Linked DNA regions of Homo sapiens. The protein of the gene in region 3 purifies or fractionates together with the protein of the main gene of each other region. This does not show direct contact. Each region holds a gene or a part of one and is shown on either strand. Other genes may lie near its edges.

Region 1 (7,225 bases), on a different chromosome or scaffold from region 3:
CATAAAGTAGGTGCTCAATAATTTTTAAATGAGTAAGTGAAAGGACTTTTTATGAAGTGTTACATACCTCATAAATGATAACTATTATTCCCAAGACAGGGTTTCCCCTGGGCTCCCACAGTCCCCTGATCACACGGTTGTAATTGTGTTTCCTCCAAGAAAGGGGTTCCTGGAGGCCTAGGAGAGAGGGACCATCATCTGGGAACCTGAGTGTTCTCAGGACAACCTGCCTAGGGCAGAGGAGTAAGAACCAAATGGGGGAGAGACACGAGGTGGCAGGAGGAGGAGGGTATGGGGAGGCACTTAGTCCTGTGTCTTCCCCACCCAGTGCAGTCCCTGGAAGAAGAATGCCTGCTGCACAGCCAGCACCAGCCAGGAGCTGCACAAGGACACCTCCCGCCTGTACAACTTTAACTGGGACCACTGCGGCAAGATGGAGCCCGCCTGCAAGCGCCACTTCATCCAGGACACCTGTCTCTATGAGTGCTCACCCAACCTGGGGCCCTGGATCCAGCAGGTAGGGTGTCTCCCCCCCACCCACCCCAGCAGACTGCCATCCCCCTCAGTCACTTCAAGGCGATGGCTGCCAGCATCCCTGGCTGAGAGGAGCCCTGCCTCCCCACCTCCCACCCAGGTGAATCAGAGCTGGCGCAAAGAACGCTTCCTGGATGTGCCCTTATGCAAAGAGGACTGTCAGCGCTGGTGGGAGGATTGTCACACCTCCCACACGTGCAAGAGCAACTGGCACAGAGGATGGGACTGGACCTCAGGTGAGGGTGATTGAGTTGGGGTTAGGAAAAAGGAGATTGAGGTAGGGTTTGGAAAATCTTCAAGGATTTGGGGTGGGGTGAAGATTTCTGGGGGTGGCCAGAAATGAGCTTTGGGCCCAGGGGCTGAAAGTCTGTGTCCACCATGCCTCTCCCTGCAGGAGTTAACAAGTGCCCAGCTGGGGCTCTCTGCCGCACCTTTGAGTCCTACTTCCCCACTCCAGCTGCCCTTTGTGAAGGCCTCTGGAGTCACTCATACAAGGTCAGCAACTACAGCCGAGGGAGCGGCCGCTGCATCCAGATGTGGTTTGATTCAGCCCAGGGCAACCCCAACGAGGAAGTGGCGAGGTTCTATGCTGCAGCCATGCATGTGAATGCTGGTGAGATGCTTCATGGGACTGGGGGTCTCCTGCTCAGTCTGGCCCTGATGCTGCAACTCTGGCTCCTTGGCTGAGTTCAGTCCTCCCAGACTACCTGCCCTCAGCTTGGATAACCAGGCTGGGCTCAGCTCAGCTCCCACAAATGACAGCCCCTTAAGCATGCTTCTATTAGTCACCTAACCCTCTGTCACCCAGTCTGTTGCTGCTCCATGGTGGGGCCAAGAGTCACTTCTAATAAACAGACTGTTTTCTAATAATTCCATGTCTGTGGAATTGTTTTGGTTGTGAGTTTGTGGGTGGGTGGGAGACAGATTCTACGGCTTCTGGATTCCTTCAAATTAGAGCAACTAGACCTGTGTTTGAATCCCAGCTCTGCTACTTTGTGAAAATGAAACAGTTGCTTCACTGCTCTAAACCTTTGTTTCCTTCTGGATAAAAAGAGGATAATAGTCCTGCCCTCAGGCTTGTGAAATATACAGGAGCTGTTGCCTAGAAAGCCCGTGAGCCCAGTGTCTGCACATTAATAGTCTTCAGGGATCCTGTTGTTCCTGTTGCCCCAAGTGGGAGCCAGGTCCTGAGCTTATTTGTCTTGGTCTCCAAACAGCCTCCTGGTCCTCCAGCCCTTGTGCCTGGCTCTGTGCTCGGCTCTGTAACAGGAAAGCTGGGAATGGGAGTCCAGGAAAGGATTCAGATTGCCAGTGGGATGAAAAAAATTCACAGTGGGATGAAAAAAACGTGATGCACATTGAAGGAGCAGAGTTGGGGCCTGGGACTCTCAGAGGAAAAACAGAGCCAATTGGAGAGGGCAGTGTAGGGGGTTTCTGGAGTGGAATACTCAAGAGCCTGGAACTGGTTCAGCGCTTTGGTGTCCTGGAGGTGTGGCTGGAAGAGTTAGAAACCCTTAAGGGCTTCCCGGGGTCAGGAGCCTCTGGCACCTTTGTCTCCTCCTGGGATTGGCAGATATGCCTATCTTGAGGGGGTTGCTCTGTCTTTGCAAAGCCCTCGGGAGCTGGGCCTAAGTTATCTCTGGGTCTCCCAACACCCCTTTCCCTTTGGATAAGTCTTTGTTTGCACACTCCTACTACAACTGTCCCCAGAGAGGCCCAGGTAAGTCTCTGAGAACACCCTGCAGGTAGGTGGCCCAGCTAGGACTAGAACCCAGGTGTGCAGACTCCCAGTCCAGGTCTCTCCCCCACTACCAAGGATTCCCCTCACATCAGGCTCATCTTTTCTTATACTAAAAGGTGGCTGATGAGAACGGTGGCACAGATTGTAGGATGAGTTATTGGGTTCTGGAGGCACTGTTGGGTGGGTGGGTGGATCTCTTAGTTATTATATTTATCTAGTGTGGAAGGCCCCACAGAGCCCCTTCCACGTCCCAGGCTCTGCTCCAGCTGGGTTAAGTCAATGCATATTTGAAATAGAGGAAGGAGCTCGAGGGACTGACCCGGGCTCCGTCAACAGGTTCAACGTAGCAAAGTGAAAGTTCTCTCCCAGGTTAAAGGGATTCTCCCACGGCGGCCCAGGAGATGGTGGCGGCGGGCGCCCGGCTGGAGGCCTGCGCCTTTAAGGAGCCAGGGGGCGGAGGGGCGGGGCAGGAAGACGACTCCCCGGAGACGCCGCCACCGGCTAGGTCTTTTTTTGGGAGGGGGCGGGCCAGACCCTTTTATGGGCTCCGCCCCCTTTGCGGCTGCCGCGTCCCCCTTCCGCCCTCGGCTGGAGGGGAGGAAGCTAGGGGGGCGTTGCAGCGGACCCCGTCTGGGAGCTCCCCGCTGGGCGTCCGGCCCGCGGAGGCGCGAGTTTGCTGACTCGGAGGGAGCCGCTGGGGCGGGGGCGAGTGCTAATAATACCCGTTCGTTCCGCAGCCGCGCTTTACAGTTTACACAGCTGTCACCTTCGTTTCTCCTTAATTAATAATAAAAATAGCCGCCGTTCGGGAGCGCGGGCTGGGCGCCAGGCCCGGTGCCGAGCGCGGTACGAGCTCGGCCCCCAGAGCCGGCCCTCGCCACAGGATCCCCATTTTCCAGAGCGGGAAGCCGACGCTCAACCCCGCGCCGCGACTTGCCCGAGGTCACCCAGTGGGCCAGCGGCTCCGGGACCGAGGCGCGGGGCGGGGTGAGGCGAGGCGCGGTGCTGCCCCCGGCTCCCCGGGGCGGCGCGGGGCGGGGCGGGCGGCGCGGAGGGCGGGGGCGCGCGCGGATGGCCATCTTAAGTGGCCGCCTGGAGCCCAGGGCCGCTGTCCGGGGAAGGGGGCGCCGGAGCAGCCCGGGAGGTGGGGGTCTGCGTGCGGCGGCCGGGATCCCGGGAGGGAACTTTCTACTAGACGGGCCAGGGATCCTCCTGGCTTCGGACTGCTGAACCCCCTCAAGGCCCGGCCTGCGGGTGTGGGGGGTGGTGCTGGGGAACTTGGCCGAGAGGGGGAAGGGCTCTGCGGGGCTGGGAGGGGCTGCGTGAGAGGCTCGAGAACGTCGCACCTCGTCTGGGCCCCCCGCCAGAGTAAGAATCTTCAGAAGCCTGGTTAGCCAGGGAATCTCCCCGCAGGCTTTGCCGGGGGACGGTTCCCGTGGAGTTGGGGGTTCAGATCTAAGAGGGGGCTGCATTTCGCAGGAGTTGGGGGCCCCGCCCGCTTGGGTGGAGGGAAGAGGATGGGTAGGGGGTGGTCCTGGATCCTTCGCAGGTTTGGGGAACTCGATGCAGCCAAGCTGTAAGGGGGACGAGAGGAAGAGCCATGGAGTGGAATCAGACCTTTATGGGGCTTAGGGGTCATATCATTGGGAGAACTGAGAAGCGCTGAATTCTCCAGGGGGTGCCTGGATCCCGAAGTGTCGGGGCCAGGATGGGGGGACTCGGATTTCGATGGGGATTTGGGGACTGGATCTCCTCGGGTGAATGATGGGGGCAGGATCATTGTGGGGTCTGGGAGGTCCCGGGCCCTTCGGGAAGGTGGGGGCACCGTCCCCGCAGGAGGAGCTGGGGGCAGGGGCGGCCCGGGCTGCGGGCCGAGCGGAGGGGGAGGGGGCGGCAGCCGGCCCTGCGCTCCGCTCCTGCCCCTCCCCCGCCGCCTCTGAACAAACTTTTCTTTCTCTTCAAGTTGAGGCCGGCGCTGCAGGCAGCGGCGGCTGCGCGGTGAACGAGGCGGCCTGCGCGGCGGAGTGCTGAGTCCCGATCCCCGGCTCTGTCCGGCCCACGGATCCTCAAGCCCGGGCCCCGGGCCCGGCCCCAGCCTCAGCCCTGAGCGTCTCGGGGCGGATGGCGCGGGGCGGCGGGGGCGGGCGGTGCTGAGCCCTGCGCGGGCCATGGCCTCGGCCTGCGGGGCGCCGGGCCCGGGGGGCGCCCTGGGCAGCCAGGCCCCCTCCTGGTACCACCGCGACCTGAGCCGGGCGGCCGCGGAGGAGCTGCTGGCCCGGGCGGGCCGCGATGGCAGCTTCCTGGTCCGAGACAGCGAGAGCGTGGCGGGGGCCTTCGCGCTCTGCGTCCTGTGAGTGGGGCGGGGGCTCCTTGCGGGCTGGCGTGGACCGGGAGCGCGGGCACGGCCGGGTGTGGAAAGGGCCCGGGTGAGGGTTTCTGGGGCGGTGGGACGCCAGACCCGCCTCCACCCCCCAGAGTGGGAGCCTTGGCTTTCTCCTGGGTCTGAGGAGGGACGCAGGGGCACTTCCTGCTGTGTGTCTGGGGGCACTTTCAGGAGCCTTGAGGGTAGAGAATATGGGGTTCTGTGGCCCAGTGTGACTGTGATGACGAAAAATTCGGGCATTCCCCGGCAGACCCCTTCAGGCATCCTCCAGGTAGAAGGGAGCAGGGGAGAGGATGTGCATTCCACGTTGTGTGCAGTCCCGTTTGGATAGGGACTGAGTGGTGAGCAGGAGAGGGAGTCGGGGCAGAGGGACTGACGGGGTGTGTGGGGATGCCTGGCAGCTTCCTTAGGGCCCCTTTCGGTGCTTTGGGGTTCTGCCTGGCCGTGTATGGGTGGTGGGGGCGGTGATGGGTGGTGTAGAGAGGAAGGCTTGGGGAAGCAGAGGCTGAGGCTGTATGGGACCTTGCCATTATTTCTGAACCAATGAGTGAGTGTTTGAGCCCTGGCTCTGGGCTTGAGCCCTGGTTACCTGGCTGCCCTAGCCCTGAGCTATGAGTGCTGAGTGAGAGCAGAGCCAGACTTGGTGCTTCTCTGAGTGGGCCAGGTCCTGTGGCTGTGCCTTTCAGCCCAGTGTGGTTGGTAGTGGTGCTGGGGTGAGTTAGCACTCTTGGTTTTGCAGCCTTCTAGCGGCTTTGTACCTCCTGCCCTGCAGTCTGACATTGAGTTGGCTTCTGTGGGCCCAGTGAGTGGGAATCTGTGGGGGCTGCTTTATTTAGATCAGTTATTTAGATCTTTATTTAGATCTTTCTTAGCTCTGTGAACCCCCTCCCAAACTCCTGTCCCACTGTACCTTCCTTACCCCTTTGTTCTCCTGACATCTTTGGTCGGGGCGCACATTAGCCTAGACCAGGGGAGACCTTTTTTTTTTTTTTTTTTTTTGAGAAAGAGTCTCGCTCTGTTGCCCAGGCTGGAGTGCAGTAGTGCAATCTCGGCTCACTGCAACCTCCGCCTCCTGGATTCAAGTGATTCTTCTGCCTCTGCCTCGCCAGTAGCTGGGATTACAGGCGCTCGCCACCAAGCCCAGCTAATTTTTGTATTTTTAGTAGAGATGGGGTTTCACCATATTGGCCAGGCTGGTCTTGAACTCCTGACCTCAAGTGATCCACCTGCCCCGGCCTCTCAAAGTGCTAGGATTACAGGTGGAGCCACCTCGCCCAGCTGGGGAGACATTTTTAATTGTCACAACTGGGATGGTGCTATTGACATCTAGTGGGTAGAAGCCGGGGATACTGCTAAACATTCTACAGTGCACAAGAGAGTCCCCCACAACAAAGAACTGTGCAATCCAAAATGTCAGTGGTATGGAGGTTGAAAAACTCTAGCCTAGGCAATTGACCCAACAAGGAAGGGGCCCTATAAGTCTTAGCTTAGGCCTCAAGTCTGAGGCCCAGTAGGGGGAGACTAAGGAGGGACAGACTAGGCAGATGAATATCCCCAAGTCCTGCTTCCCAGCCCCCTCTGAGGCATACCCCCTAATTAGGCTGGGGAGGGAGGCAGGTGCTGGGTCAGCTGTTGAGTGGGAGGGGGACAGCTGGGGCCTGTGTCTGGGTGAGGAACATTATTGTCCCAGGAGGGGGAGAATCCTGGCCTCATTGCCAAGGGAGGCTGTGAATGGGGTGAGGGGTCTGTCTGTGAGTGGGGGCTTCAGGTTTGCCAGCTGACTCTGGCTCTTCCCCGCATCTCAAGAGCCTGGGGGTAAGGATCAGACGTGGGCGATCAGACGTGGGCAATATCTTAGATTTGCCAAATACACACATACTTGCTTACCTGTATACATTCCGGGTGTTCATGGATAACATGCAAGACACGCCCCTGCCCCAGCAGGCACAGGCAATCTGACCAGCAAGCTAGGATACTGGCCCTGGCTTCTGCCATGGTTTAAAATCCCAACTCCACCTTTTACTTACTCTGTGGCCTTAGGAAAATCACTTTTATTCTTTGAGCCTGTTTCCTCAGCTGGAGAATGGGGATAATAATATCTGTTTAGAAGTGTGAGAATTAAGTAAGATTTATAGGACACTGGGTACCCAGCGTGTCACAGATAGGATTCAGTTAATGGTATGCTATTGTAATAAACACAGATAGTGTTTGTAATAGTCTACAAAGGAACACCTGGTGACAGACACTCACCCAGCATAAGCAGCCAGGAGAGTCACCTAGGGTGACTCCTGGGTGACTCCTTGGGGAAGCATGCCCTGAGGTGCGGAGGCAGAGGATCTTCCATCCCCCGCTGATTGTGCACCTGGCTCAGCTGCCACCTGCTCAACTGCGGCTCCTGTCTGTCAGCACCCCTCTTGCCCCTCCTTGGCTTGGGGCTCCTAGAGGCCCAGGTCTCCCATGGGGGCCCTCTTTGGTGGGAAGGCCTAGGGTGATGCCCCCACACTCCTCGGCACAAGTGCCCTAGACATACCCGACTCCAGCAGAGCCAGAGAGCAGCATAAACACAG
Region 2 (7,110 bases), on a different chromosome or scaffold from region 3:
TAGCAAGTGCATGAACTCATCTTGCACTGATGTGGTTGTGTTCTTTTCCTGGAAAAAAGTGAAAAAAAAATTGTGATATATGTATTTCTTAAATTATAAGCATATTTATTCAAAATTATAGGAGCATGACTCCCTTTCCTTGCCTTAGACTTCCATCAAATCCATAAAGTGATCATCTGAACATCAGTGACTAGAAGATAGCCAATCAGCTGTTCTAACACCTGCCCTTATTGCCAAAGCCCCACCAGCTCCACTTCACAATCCTGTCCCCACTTAAGTTGTATCAATGGGAAAAGAGCCCTTTTGGCAAATCTGAGGAAGCAGTTTGAAGTCAGACGAAGCCATTTGAAAGAAATTATGATCTTAGCCTTTTATGAATCAAACTGATTTTTCTCATGTACCTCAAGGTAAAGACATACATCATGCATTCTTTAACTCTCTCCATGGGAAACTTCAGCTGCTTTACCTGCACAAACTTGGTGAGACGAGAATCCATCTGCATTAGTATTTCTTCCCATGCTTCACACATACATGTTAGTGACAAATTTATATACTATTAGCAAAAAAGAAAAATTGAAATGGTAAAAAATATTTAAACCAACTTGCTATCTAAATAATATGTGCTTATGATCAAGTGTCTCAAAGAAATCTAGAATTTACTTTCAATCACTGTTTTATTTTTATTATTTATTTATCGAGACAGAGTCTTGCTCTGTCGTCCAGGCTGGAGTGCAGTGACGCCATCTTGGCTCACTGCAACCTCTGCCTCCCAGGTTCAAGCGATTCTCCTGCCTCAGCCTCCCAAGTAGCTGGTATTATATGCGTGCGTCACCATGCCCAGCTAATTTTTGTATTTTTAGTAGAGACGGGGCTTTACCATGTTGGCCAGGCTGGTCTCGAACTCCAAGCCTCAAGTGATCCACCTGCCTCAGCCTCCCAAAGTGCTGGGATTATAGGTGTGCGCCACTGTGCCCAGCCTCAATCACTCTTTTAACTCAGTTAAGATGGAGAAAAAGACAACAGCTTGGTCATCACTTAACTACGAAACATTCCATTGATTCTTAGAATTTCATAATAAAACATTCTTAAATTTTTATCTGGTGAAACAAATATCTCCAAGCTTTTTATATAAGATATGTCTTATCTACACTAACTGTCAAAATACTGGTTTGGTCAATTATTCAATTTTAAAAAGATACTGATCTCTAGAAACCTTTAATATCAAATAAATTAATGACTGTGGTAGAATGAAAAACATGGCCACAATCTTTTGTAGCCCCTCCAGTCAGATGCAGAGTCCATTTCTTCAGCCCTTGAGTCTCGCTTTGACTAACGGAATGCAGCAGAAATAACACTGTTGACTCCAGGGCCTCAAAAGTCTTTGTACACTTCCACTTGCACCCTCGATGCCCCGTTACCACCACCATGTGGACAAGCCTGTGCTGGCTCGCTGGAGTATGAAGGATGTGGAGTAGAGACAAGGAATCACAGCCAAGGGACACATACCAGCTGGCATGACCAAGTCTAGTCAAGATCAGCTGAACCTTCTCCAGGTCACCCAAACATCTTGGCTAAGCTGAGCCTAAATCACCAACCTACAGAATTGGGAGGTAATTTGGGGTGGGTTTATTATGAACAAATGTAAACTCATGTGAAGACTGTTTTTCCCACAATACTTTATAATGTAAATGGTATTTTATTTATGGGAGTATTTTAAAAGATTTAAACTCTTTTGGAGGTGGAAAATAGGGTGCGGTGAAAGTAGGTTCTCAATTAAATGTCCTTTTCCTGCTTTAATGGACCTTATAAGATCATCTATCAGACTAGATACCTCTACTTCAGAAAGCTTTACAAAACAAAATTTTGAAGCTTTTTATTTACAGAACTTTAGAAGCCGATAATAAATATTCACATAAAACAAGCTCTAAATAAATACCTGTAACAGAGCTGAAATATGAGTAAACTTTCTGGCCATCCGAGTTACTTCAGGTAAGAAAGAGTACAACAGATTAGTTTCAAGCTGTAAAATCAAAAGAGTAAAGTGAGTCATCATCAGATGCACTTGCTGCAAAGTCTGTAATTTAGAGTGTGGGTCAAACTACGTATCAGAAAGACTATGTCAGAATTGTGCCCTCTTTGAGCAGAACGGTTTGGAAACAGCACATAGCCTTAGGATCTCCTAACCTACACATAACCATACACAAATCACTCTCTCTGGGTTATCAACCCCTCCTGTGTAGATAGAATAAATGTAATATAACCTATTTTGAAACAGTATTACAAAGAAATGTTTAAATCACAAATATATGTAAAAACTTAAAGGAAGTATAAGGAATTAAAGGCTACTGATAAATATTGGGAAAATATCTATCAATGGTATATGAATTGTATCTTAATAAATTTGTCATTAAAAATGATCTGTTACCAACTTCACAGTAGTAGTGAATCATTTTATTATAATCCAAATGCAATCCTGGTGATCATAGTTTCACATAACCTTAAGAAGATGAGCAAATATGAACAACCATTACCATAGTGAACAGTAAACCAAGAGTTCTCTGATGCTCTGAATACAAAGAGAATGTTGGAAGACATCACACACATTGCATCTTGCATCTTTTTTGTTCTACTTTTGTTTGAGAGTTCACACATACTTAAGTGGCTGGGATATTTAAGATGAAAATTTTCGATTTCTTGGCAAGGCTATGATCTAAATACTCTATGGGAGCCCAGTTAGCTTCCTTAATCTACAATGCAGACAGCACGCAATAAAGCATTTTCCCAATATTAAGTGATCATTTTACACAAGATGCAATGTGCTAGTTAAGAGCACAGATTATGCAGCCAGATTGTCTAGCATCACTTTCCCATCCTGTGACATCAAGCAAGTTCTGAAGTATTTGTGTGTCCATGTACTTACCTATAAAATGGGGATAATAACAGTATCTGCCTATTATGATGCTGTGAAGATTCAAATCAACTGTTCTGAAGCATTCAGCATATGGCACATATTAAACAATCAATAAATATTAACCTTTGTTATTATCAGGGACAGAGTCCTAAGCAAACACTTGGTACAAAGTCAAACTGGAATAGCAACAAATTAATATGGTCATTAATAGACCACCAAAACACTTTTTATGAAAACTGTATTGGAGCATGGGAAGAATAATATGGTATTCACTATAATAACACTCAGTATATTAGGATGTAGAAATTCCAAGTCGATTTTTTTGCATTATTTTAATGATCATTACAATACAGTGAGATGTGGATAAAAACCTATATAAAACCTGTTAAATACATATTTACTCTCTACCGTTATCAAGTTCCAATACTCACCTGAAAGTATGAAACTTCTGAAGCACCATTGGTAGAGACTTCTGTGACCACTGATAATGATTTCAAATCACTTGATAAACATAATGCAAGACAAGTACCAGCAATCTGTAAAAGAGTCAAACCCCTTAGTATATTTAGTATCACTGCTAGGTTGAAGCTGATTATCATGCAGAAAGCAAAAACTCAGAGCTTTAAAAAGCAGAAACAAATTCCCAGCTCCAGCCACACACATGTAGCAGATGAAGGTAGGTGTCTGCCTGCATGGACCTTTCTAGTTACAAGGCCACAAAAATAACCTGGTTCCCTCACCCCTACCCAAGTCTCAAATCAAGTGCTGCAGAACCAACATATTCCACAGAGCCTACAATATTTTCTACCCCTTTTGCGAGTGTAAGAGTCTGATGAAAAAGCTATGGAGAAGACTGAGACGTAGCAACTATAGTACAGTCAGTACTGGACTTAAGAATGCTTCTGAAGATTTACATTCCAATCACAAATTGAAGCTCTTTTACATCTCACACTAGAAAAACATCAAATCATAATCAAGTGTATCATACTAATCTTTCTGTTAAAGAAAAAGAAAAAAAAACTTGACTAATTCCACAAATAGCTCCCAATCTTTATAGACATATCACAATTATTTTATCTTAGTAAGGAAATTAGTCTCTGAACATTTAAGAATAATTCCAAAAATCGAAACTGAAAAAAAACCTAGTGTTTTATTCTTTTTCCATAAGTACCTAGTATATTCTAAGAGAAATAATTTAGGAAGAGAAAATGTTAAAGAAATCTTACCCCTGTGACTCGAGCAATTTTAAACATTCCATAAGCATAAAGCTCAATAAATCCAGAGCTTCCTCCAAGGACGAGAATATTAAGCCTAATTAAAAACAATGCAACAAGCTGAGAACCAATCAACAACACAGATGATTGCATTGTTAAAGCGAGATATAAATTATTACTGCTTTCATATAATCTACATGCTAAAGCTCCCCTGCAGAGGGAAGTGAGACATCAAATCCACTAACACTCAATATTCAGTCACATCAGGCTCATTCCTTTTTTCAAAGAACACAAATTTCCTCTAGCCTAAAAAAAAATCAGCTTACAGTAAAATAAGAATACATTATTTTAATAACAACTATATTTATACACTCTCAATAACAAAACAATCCTTTTACCAACTAATACAAAGTGCCATCAGTTTTATCATGGTTATGATGCTAAATATATTAAATGGGCTTAAAAAACATGAATACTTAAAATTTTAGAAACTCTAGTACTTATATCCTTTAACTTATTAAAATAAACATATGTACATCATATTATTATTAAAACTTCATAAAACGAAAGGCCACACAATAAAAACAATAATAGATATTAAGGTCTATATATTGTTTGAAGGTATTAATGTCAACGATAAGGCCAGGTGCGGTGGCTCATGCCTGTAATCCCAACACTTTGGGAGGCCAAGGCGGGTGGATCATCTGAGGTTGGGAGTCTGAGACCAGCCTGGCCAACATGGTGAAACCCCGTCTCTACTAAAAATACAAAAATTAGGCCAGGCGCGGTGGCTCACGCCTGTAATCCCAGCGCTTTTGGAGGCTAAGGCGGGTGGATCACGAGGTCAAGAGATCGAGACCATCCTGGCCAACATGGTGAAACCCCGTCCCTACTAAAAATAAAAAAATTAGACAGGCCTGGTGGCGGGTGCCTGTAGTCCCAGCTACTCGGGAGGCTGAGGCAGAAGAATCACTTGAACCAGGAAGGCGGAGGTTGCAGTGAGCCGAGATAACGCCACTGTACTCCAGCCTGGCAACAGAGCGAGACTCCGTCTCAAAAAAAAAAAAAAAAAATTAGCTGGGTGTGGTGGCGCGTGCCTGTAGTCCCAGCTACTCGGAGGAGGCTGAGACAGGAGAATCGCTTGTGCCCAGGAAGTAGAGGTTGTAGTGAGCCAATATCACGACACTGCACTCCAGCCTGGGTGACAGAGACTCCATCTCAAAAAGAAAACAAAAACAAAAAACAATGAAATAAAATGGCAAATAAAGGATTTGCTCTTAAAGCTTCTGAAAACTGCCTCAAATATGAAATAACTTTAAGAAATTAGACTTATTTATCTGTAAGATTTACCTGACGTCTCCCAAGAGCTTAATAATTTCATCAGAATTTTCTTCACTAAAATATAGAAGTAAATTGGGTCATCTTTCAATTCTGTCTTCCAAATAATAGCAGATTATCTTACTTGAAAACAAGAAAAGGCGTATCTTACCTAAATATTTTTGAGGTGTTGCTATAGCTAGAAGGAAACAGAGATTAAGGTAAAAAATACTCTTAGTAAAAATACATATTTTAAAACGCATGAGAAAATTGTCACAGTGTTAAAAGCAGAAGAAAGAGAAATCTGCAAGATTAATTTCAAAGAAACCAGTGATACATACTTTTTTGGCAGTGTAGGTAGTTTAGGTAAGAGAAGATTTGATTCATCCTCAGCATTATAAAATGATGTGAGAACACTAAAAAGGAAAAAATAAAAGCATTATAAAAACACCAAAGATTTTACTTCTCTTGCCATTAAAAATGCTAATTTTTAAAAAAGATACCCAGTTTTACAACATTATCAAGTAAATAGATGACACAAATACTATACAGTTGTAGTCAGTTTAACAGTCCCAAATAGGAAATTGAAAAGTAGGAATTTCTGTTATTTTAGGGGAAAAAAAACATCAGCCTGCACACGTTACATTTAGAGAAATGATATTAATAAACACTTTTCTTAGCATATGAAATGCATTCATATGTACTCAGATACTGAGAATTTATGATTTCTTAACTCTCATTTAAGAACTCACACCAAACATATGACTACTAAGAGTAGCACTATCTTTTATTTATGAGACAGGGTCTCACCCAGGCCGGAGTGCAGTGGTGTGATCATGGTTCACTGCAGCCTTCACCTTCTGAGCTAAAGCCATCATCCTGCCCCAGCCTCCTGAGTAGCTGGGACTACAGGTGCAAGCCACCACACCCAGCTAATATATACATTTTTTTTTTTAGAGATGGGGGTCTCACTATGTTGCCCAGACTGGTCTGAAACTCCTTCCTCCTGCCTCAGCCTCCCAAAGTGCTAGGATTATAGGCATGAACCACTATGCATGGCCTACTATGTGATTTAGTTATTGGTTCTATGACTTATACACACTTGTGGATTTGATAATCCAACAGGTATTTGAGACTACACCATGCCTTTTGAAATAGTCTTATTTACCCCCTTTTCCTTCTCAATTCTAACTCCAAATAAGGTTGGAAATAAATGAGTAAGCAAGTAAAAAAGTGGTGATTTAGCAAGTATTTTTTCCTACTTTAATAAAAAGGAGCTGTCTTGAGAGACCCTGGAATCGCCACATAACACTTCTAAACTGTTAGTAGAAAGTATGTTGGGAATACACACAGCAGATAACCGGGCTGGAATAGGAATTACATGATATGCTCTGACCCTCTAACATTCTACATATTCACATAACGATTTGTAATCCTTCATTATCTGATGATGGATTTATCACTCTGGTTTATCTACAGTGAATTTCAAACCCCAGGTCAAACCCTTGTCATCCAATTCTTTCAGGCTTCCCTTAGGAAAGCTGGCAATTAATATTCAGGATTTACAAATTCATTTGATATTACCTTAGTATAACTTAATTAGAAAGGAAAAGTTAATGGTAAGAAAATTAGCATATTTCCCCAAAAAAGAAAAACAATTTTTGTTTT
Region 3 (6,286 bases):
GACCTCTAGCCCCACCTGTTTTGCAAACGGGAAAAGAGCCCCAGGAGTGGCTCCCCCACGGTTGAGAAGTTAACTCAGCCCCGGCTTCACAAACCCCACGTGCAGTATGGCAGTTAGTATTTTTGGGCACCACCTTTCGGGTGTACCTGTCTCCTATACACCTTGTGCCAATAGGCACAAGGCAAGTCTCTTGCCCAGAACCAGTGGAAAGCAAATGAATTCGTTAGCCTTTACAAAAAACACCTTTTTTTTTCAGACAGTCTCACTCTGCTGCCCAGGCTGGAGTGCAGCGGTGCAATCTCAGCTCACTGCAACCTCTGCCTCCCGGGTTCAAGTGATTCTCCTGCCTCAGCCTCACGAGTAGCTGGGATTACAGGCGTGTGCCACCATGCCAGGCTAATTTTTGTATTTTTAGTAGAGATGGGGTGTCACCATGTTGGCCAGGCTGATCTCGAACTCCTGAGCTCAGGTGATCTGCCTACCTTGGTCTCCCAAAGTGCTGGGATTACAGCCATGCCTGGCCAAAAAATATTTCTCTTCCTGAATTAAAATGCAAATTTTACCAATCAAGAAACTGACATAAGAACAGTTTTATTTTAATCACTTAAGACTTGTGCATTATTCAATTTTGAGACTGAAATACTTGTTTCCCTTTCAACTGATTAGGAAATGGTCTGAGCTGGCAGAAGTTAATCCTCACATTATTCAGCTAATGAGAGACAGAATCCTAAAACCTGATTCCAACTTCCGCCTGTACCTCACAATGCAAGACAAAGCCTTTCATTTTAATGTTGTACACATATAAGGACCATATAATCTGGATTAACTTTAGGTAACAATAACTTAAAAGATAGGAAAATGTATCATATTACAGAGATTTAAAAATTGTCTATACAATAAATGATGAAGAAAACTAACAATAAACAGGACGACGTTCAAATACTGAATACAATTAACAAATGGGGCCAAAAGATCAACATTTATCTCTCATCATCTTTCATGCAATGTCTCAGCTTTCTTCTCCCAAACATAAAGGCAGATTAATTCAAAGTAGCCCTATTAAGAATATTTGTTTATCACGCCTGCAATCCCAGCACTTTGGGAGGCCGAGGTGGGTGGATCACCTGAGGTCAGGAGTTCAAGACCAGCCTGACCAATATGGTGAAACTCCATCTCTACTAAAAATACAAAAATTAGCCAGGTGTGGTAGCACATACCTGCAGTCCCAGCTACTAGGGAGGCTGAGACAGGAGAATTGCTTGAACCCAGGAGATGGAGGTTACAGTGAGCCAAAATCGCGCCACTGCACTCCAGCCTGGGCAACAGAGCGAGACTCCATCTCAAAAAAAAAAAAAAAAATTATGTTTCATTCTGAAATTAATATTTGAATGGAAACTGTATTAACAGCTCATGGTTTCCTACTAAAGTTTAAGATCCCCCTAGACAATGCTCAGATTTAGACAATGCCAGAATAAGACACTGGGTGACTGAAGTATGAACTACAGGTAAAATCTAGAAGAACATAGATAATAAAAAATTTCTGATTTAACAGACATAGTAAATATAAATGAATTAACTCACACAACCTACTTACACCAAACAAAACTAGAATGAACAACTTGTAGGAACCACCTCTAGTTGATTTCACCACTTAACAGGGGCAAGATCTTAGGTGGATCATTTTGTTTAAGGATGACTTGAAATTTTACAATACTACCTTAGCTCCCACATATGAAAACTCTTCAAGAATTTTTTCTCATCAACCAGACGTTGAGGAAAATACAGTGAGAAATAAAATGAAACGGCTTCTCACACATATGAAGGCCCAGATCACCCCTAAATTTCTAGTGATTTAACTTAAGAAGCTCCTTGCCCTGAGAGATTCCTTTATCCCACAACACTCTACTCAGAGGGGGCAGAGAATCCCAGGACACTACACAAGCCACAGGATAAAAACACAACCTGTCTTCTATCTGGCACCAACTGACTAATATCTAGGTATACACAGGACTGACTTTAAAGTTGGTTAACAAATATTTTAATTCATTAAAATAAAACTTAAAAATTACATGCTTAGTCTACACAAGTTTAACTTACTTTAGTCACTTAGTGAATTGTGAATTGGCTCCCATTAGTGGTCAGGAGAATGTATTTGGTGTAGAAACCAAATAAATCAAGCTATTATCGCCTTGTGAGTACAAACAATGTTTATTTGTTTGTAAAGTGCCAGGTTTATATTTAAGTAAACATTAAAATCTGCGTTGAAGCAGTGAGGCTGCATCTTTTAACTGGCTGTGCTGGTTAAAGGACTGTTTAATCCCGCTGTGCTAAGCTCACTAAAGGGTCACCCCTCACTTTAAAGCCAAGACTGCCATTGTCACTGCTATGGTAAGTCACAGCCAGCCAGGCCTTCTGGCAAAAGGTGATACTACCAGCACTATAAACAGACAGGACTGGTTGTGAGGTAGCTACACAGTTTTAAAGATGCTGTTAATGAACATTACGGACAATTCATGGTGTGGCTAGTTGGTAACACTTCAGCTGATTTTTCTTATGAGATGGAAAAAAAAAATCAGCCAAGTAAGGGCACATCTTCAGTTCATTTAGAAGTCAGCATCCAAGGTAAAAGAATTCTCTGTTGGACTTGACATCACTCCCATCCTCTGATACTCGCCTACTCTCTTCTCAAAGAAGTTAGTCTTTCCTTCCAGTGAAATATTCTCCATAAAGTCAAATGGGTTCTCTACTCTGAAAACCTGAAAAGGTTCACATCAAGATATAAATACAGAGCACCAGCTTCAAAACAAGCAAAAGGCTATGTAAACAATACTTTACCTTGCTAAAACCCAGTTCCAGCATAAGTCTGTCTGCCACAAACTCAATGTATTGCTTCATTAGAGTGCAATTCATCCCAATGAGCTTCACAGGCAAGGCCTCAGTGAGGAACTCCTAGGAACCAAAATACAGCTTCTGAATACAACTAAAGCACAGGCATTTTCTAGCAAGCTTGAGTGACCCATTTCATCACCCACTTTACCTGTTCTATCCGAACAGCATTGATAATTATTTCTCTTACTCTCTCCTCCGATGGTTTGTGTACCAGGTGTTTGAACATCAGGCAAGCAAAATCACAGTGTAAACCCTAGAAAAAAAAGTTCAAGATCACTAAAGCCAGAAGACTTCTGTCATTAACATGGAATATGAAATTACTTTGTCCTTTTCTGCATTCTCCTTATCCAACATGCTCAGCCATACTGAGAGCACTTGAACTCTCAAAGGGAAGATGACTTCAACTACTGACTTCTCTGCTGATGTCACTACCAAGGCAAGCTCAGTCCCATTCAAGACCCTCAAAGTTGCCACCTAGATGAAGACAGGCAAGGTGTATTTCTTGCTCTGCTGTGTGTTGGCAAAGGAGGAGTCAGAGCTTCACTCAGTGATCTTTCTACAGCCATGAGTGCTAATTTTGCCACTACTCCCAGCAGGAAAGGCAAAGCTCAGTAATAAGGCTAGTTTTTAGATGCTCAGGAAATTTGTATGCAATTTCAAGTAAATCAAGTTTGCAAGTTACTGCATTAAACATCAAGCTTCACAGCTTATCTCCCAATCCAGTAAGGAAGGCCCTCCTACAAGGTAACCATATTTGATTTGCCCACTGGGCTCCAAGTAAGATGGAGTTCATGCTCCTGGCTTTTCAAATGTGACTTAATCAAAGACATACACTAGACCAAAATGTATACTCATTTCATTGAAATGCTTATTAATATTGAAGTAGAGGGGCAATTTCTAGATCAAACAGGAGAAACATAATGGCTACTATGAACATTCTTTTTCGGGGGGACTGTCACCCAGGCTGGAGTGCAGTGGTGTGATCTTGACTCACTGCAACCTCCACCTCCCAGGTTCAGGCGATTCTCCTACCTCAGCCTCTCAAGTAGCTGGGACAATAGGCACGTCCACCATACCCGGCTAATTTTTTGTATTTTTAGTAGAGATGGGGTTTCACCGTGTTAGCCAGGATGGTCTCAATCTCCTGACCTCATGATCCACCCGCCTCGGCCTACCAAAGTGCTGGGATTACAGGCATGAGCCACCGCTCCTGGCTCTACTATGAACATTTTTACGGAAAAAGGGATAACATATTAATACCAGGCAAAAATAATAAAACATCCCTTAAAATCCCAATCCCATCAATAACTTGTAGTTTTGGCTGGGCATGGTGGCTCATGCCTATAATCCCAGCACTCTGGGAGGCCGAGGCGGGTGGATCACCTGATCACCTGAGGTCAGGAGTTCAACCCCAGTCTGGCAAACATGGTGAAACCCCGTCTGTATAAAAAGACGAAAATTAGCTGGGCATGGTGGCAGGCACCTACAATCCCAGCTACTTGGGAGGCTGAGGCGGGAGAATCACTTGAACCTAGGAGGCAGAGGTTGCAGTGAGCCAAGATCACGCCATTGCACTCCAGCCTGGAACGACAGAGCAAGATTCCGTCACCTCAAAAAACAAAGAACTTGTAGTTTTATGCATTCAAAGCCTATAGGGGAATACATATGTACAAATGTATTACAATATATTGAGAATGCAAGTAAAACAGTTTCAGTAAATGAAAGTATTTCCTTCTTTTGTCAAGTATGTGTATGGTTGAACTCACACATTAAATGTGGATATATGCCATCTAGCATCTCAGGTCCCCGTCAGTGAACACAAGAGCATGCCCGAGTTGTGTTTGGGGTTTAGGTCACCCTATTATTTGACTTAGACTCACCTCATCTCTGCTAATAAGTTCATTAGAAAATGTGAGGCCAGGCATCAGTCCTCGTTTCTTGAGCCAGAATATCGACGCAAAAGAACCGGAAAAGAAAATGCCTTCCACTGCAGCAAAGGCTACAACACGTTCACCTATTTAGGAGTTAACACCAACATGATTCTAGTGAGTTGGTATTCAAGGGCCAAAAATCCAGTAACATTACTTGGAAAATGAAGCTCAGGTTTAAGTAGGGGCAAGGGTCTCCTTACCATAGGTAGCCTCTTTGTCCCCAATCCAGCGCAAGGCCCAGTCTGCCTTCTTCTTGACACAAGGCATCGTTTCAATGGCATTGAAGAGAAATTCCCTAGTAGGCACATACGGTATCAGCAATTGAAGCATTACAGTAAAAGACCTCCGATTACCAACTGCTAGATAAGAGCTCTGGGACAAAGGCCAAATTCAAGTATTTGCCAATCCTCTTCCTAAAGGAAGAACTCACACCGAAATGTTTTATTTTTACTGGTCAGTTTTTCCCTCCAGTGTTCTTTTAAAAACCTCAACACTTGATTTACATTAATACAAGTTTGGGTATTCTGTAGTTCATATTGAGCTTCAGGGTCTACAGACAGTAAAACATAGTCCAGTACAGCAGGGACATTTGTTGCCTTTAAAATTATTTCAAGTCCAGATCATTGTTCAATTTGAAGAATCATAGAATTTAAATTTGAAGAACCATAAAATCCTAACTGCTGTGCTATTATCAGACTATGATTAGGTGCATTATTTGGCCTCAGTTGCCACACCTATATCATAAAATAATTAAACCAATAAACTAAGATTGCTTCCTACTAGGACTCTGTGCTACACTGTCGATCCCAGGTCAGGAAAGCAAATCCATGGGTACTACAGTTAACTGGATCTCCCTTACCACCCTCCTCTGCCTCCCTTTATTCTGGTGCCCACCTTGAGAGGCTACTCATTTCCCAGACTGTTCCTACCCAGATGACTTTGTGTTCTGAAGCCAAGGGCACCAGACATTGGGCAGCTTTTTTTTTTTTTTTTTTTTTTTTTTTTTTAAAGAGATGAGGGTCTCACTCTGTTGCCCAGGCTAGAGTGCAGCGAGATGATCACAGCTCACGGTAAAACCAAACTCCAGGGCTCAAGCCATCCTTCTGCCTCAGCCTGCCAAGTAGCTGGGACTACTAGCTCAGACTACCATGCCCAGCTGTCGTTCATTCTTTCCATCTCACTGTCCCTCTCTCTGAGACCTGGGTCTGCCTCTCCCTTGTTTTTGAGGCTTCCCCAGCAGACCTTCCTGTTCCCCTTCTGGGCATTTGCCCCCGATCGTACCCCTAATCTTTGCCTTCTTTTCTCAATTTCCACCTATAAACATGTTCAAATCTCTTTACTCCCAATGTTTCCTCAGTCCTTTCAAGTTACCACTTTTCCTCTTCATGTACTTCAAAGTCTACAACGGCTACTTTAGGTTGCAGCTTCACCACTTCCACTCCATACAAGGTTCTGGTCCCCAAAGC

The links.
Region 1: the proteins of RRM2 (region 3) and INPPL1 purify together in Homo sapiens (affinity purification with mass spectrometry; 3 studies listed by BioGRID and IntAct, with this or other methods). This does not show direct contact.
Region 2: the proteins of RRM2 (region 3) and ANAPC4 purify together in Homo sapiens (affinity purification with mass spectrometry; 3 studies listed by BioGRID and IntAct, with this or other methods). This does not show direct contact.

The regions. Positions count from the first base shown.
Region 1 is NC_000011.10:72,220,542-72,227,766, forward strand, and holds the start of INPPL1 (phosphatidylinositol 3,4,5-trisphosphate 5-phosphatase 2), read left to right. Parts: upstream 1-4,225; 5' UTR 4,226-4,443; coding exon 4,444-4,625; intron 4,626-7,225. Other genes in the region: FOLR2 (folate receptor beta), read left to right, coding at 329-517, 635-770, 929-1,221. UniProt on the Homo sapiens protein: Phosphatidylinositol (PtdIns) phosphatase that specifically hydrolyzes the 5-phosphate of phosphatidylinositol-3,4,5-trisphosphate (PtdIns(3,4,5)P3) to produce PtdIns(3,4)P2, thereby negatively regulating the PI3K (phosphoinositide 3-kinase) pathways.
Region 2 is NC_000004.12:25,387,248-25,394,357, reverse strand, and holds part of ANAPC4 (anaphase-promoting complex subunit 4), read right to left. Parts: intron 5,859-7,110; coding exon 5,784-5,858; intron 5,642-5,783; coding exon 5,615-5,641; intron 5,521-5,614; coding exon 5,476-5,520; intron 4,223-5,475; coding exon 4,138-4,222; intron 3,448-4,137; coding exon 3,343-3,447; intron 2,021-3,342; coding exon 1,937-2,020; intron 554-1,936; coding exon 467-553; intron 49-466; coding exon 1-48. UniProt on the Homo sapiens protein: Component of the anaphase promoting complex/cyclosome (APC/C), a cell cycle-regulated E3 ubiquitin ligase that controls progression through mitosis and the G1 phase of the cell cycle.
Region 3 is NC_000002.12:10,125,704-10,131,989, reverse strand, and holds the end of RRM2 (ribonucleoside-diphosphate reductase subunit M2), read right to left. Parts: intron 5,116-6,286; coding exon 5,021-5,115; intron 4,904-5,020; coding exon 4,770-4,903; intron 3,143-4,769; coding exon 3,038-3,142; intron 2,950-3,037; coding exon 2,836-2,949; intron 2,757-2,835; coding exon 2,604-2,756; 3' UTR 576-2,603; downstream 1-575. UniProt on the Homo sapiens protein: Provides the precursors necessary for DNA synthesis. Catalyzes the biosynthesis of deoxyribonucleotides from the corresponding ribonucleotides. Inhibits Wnt signaling.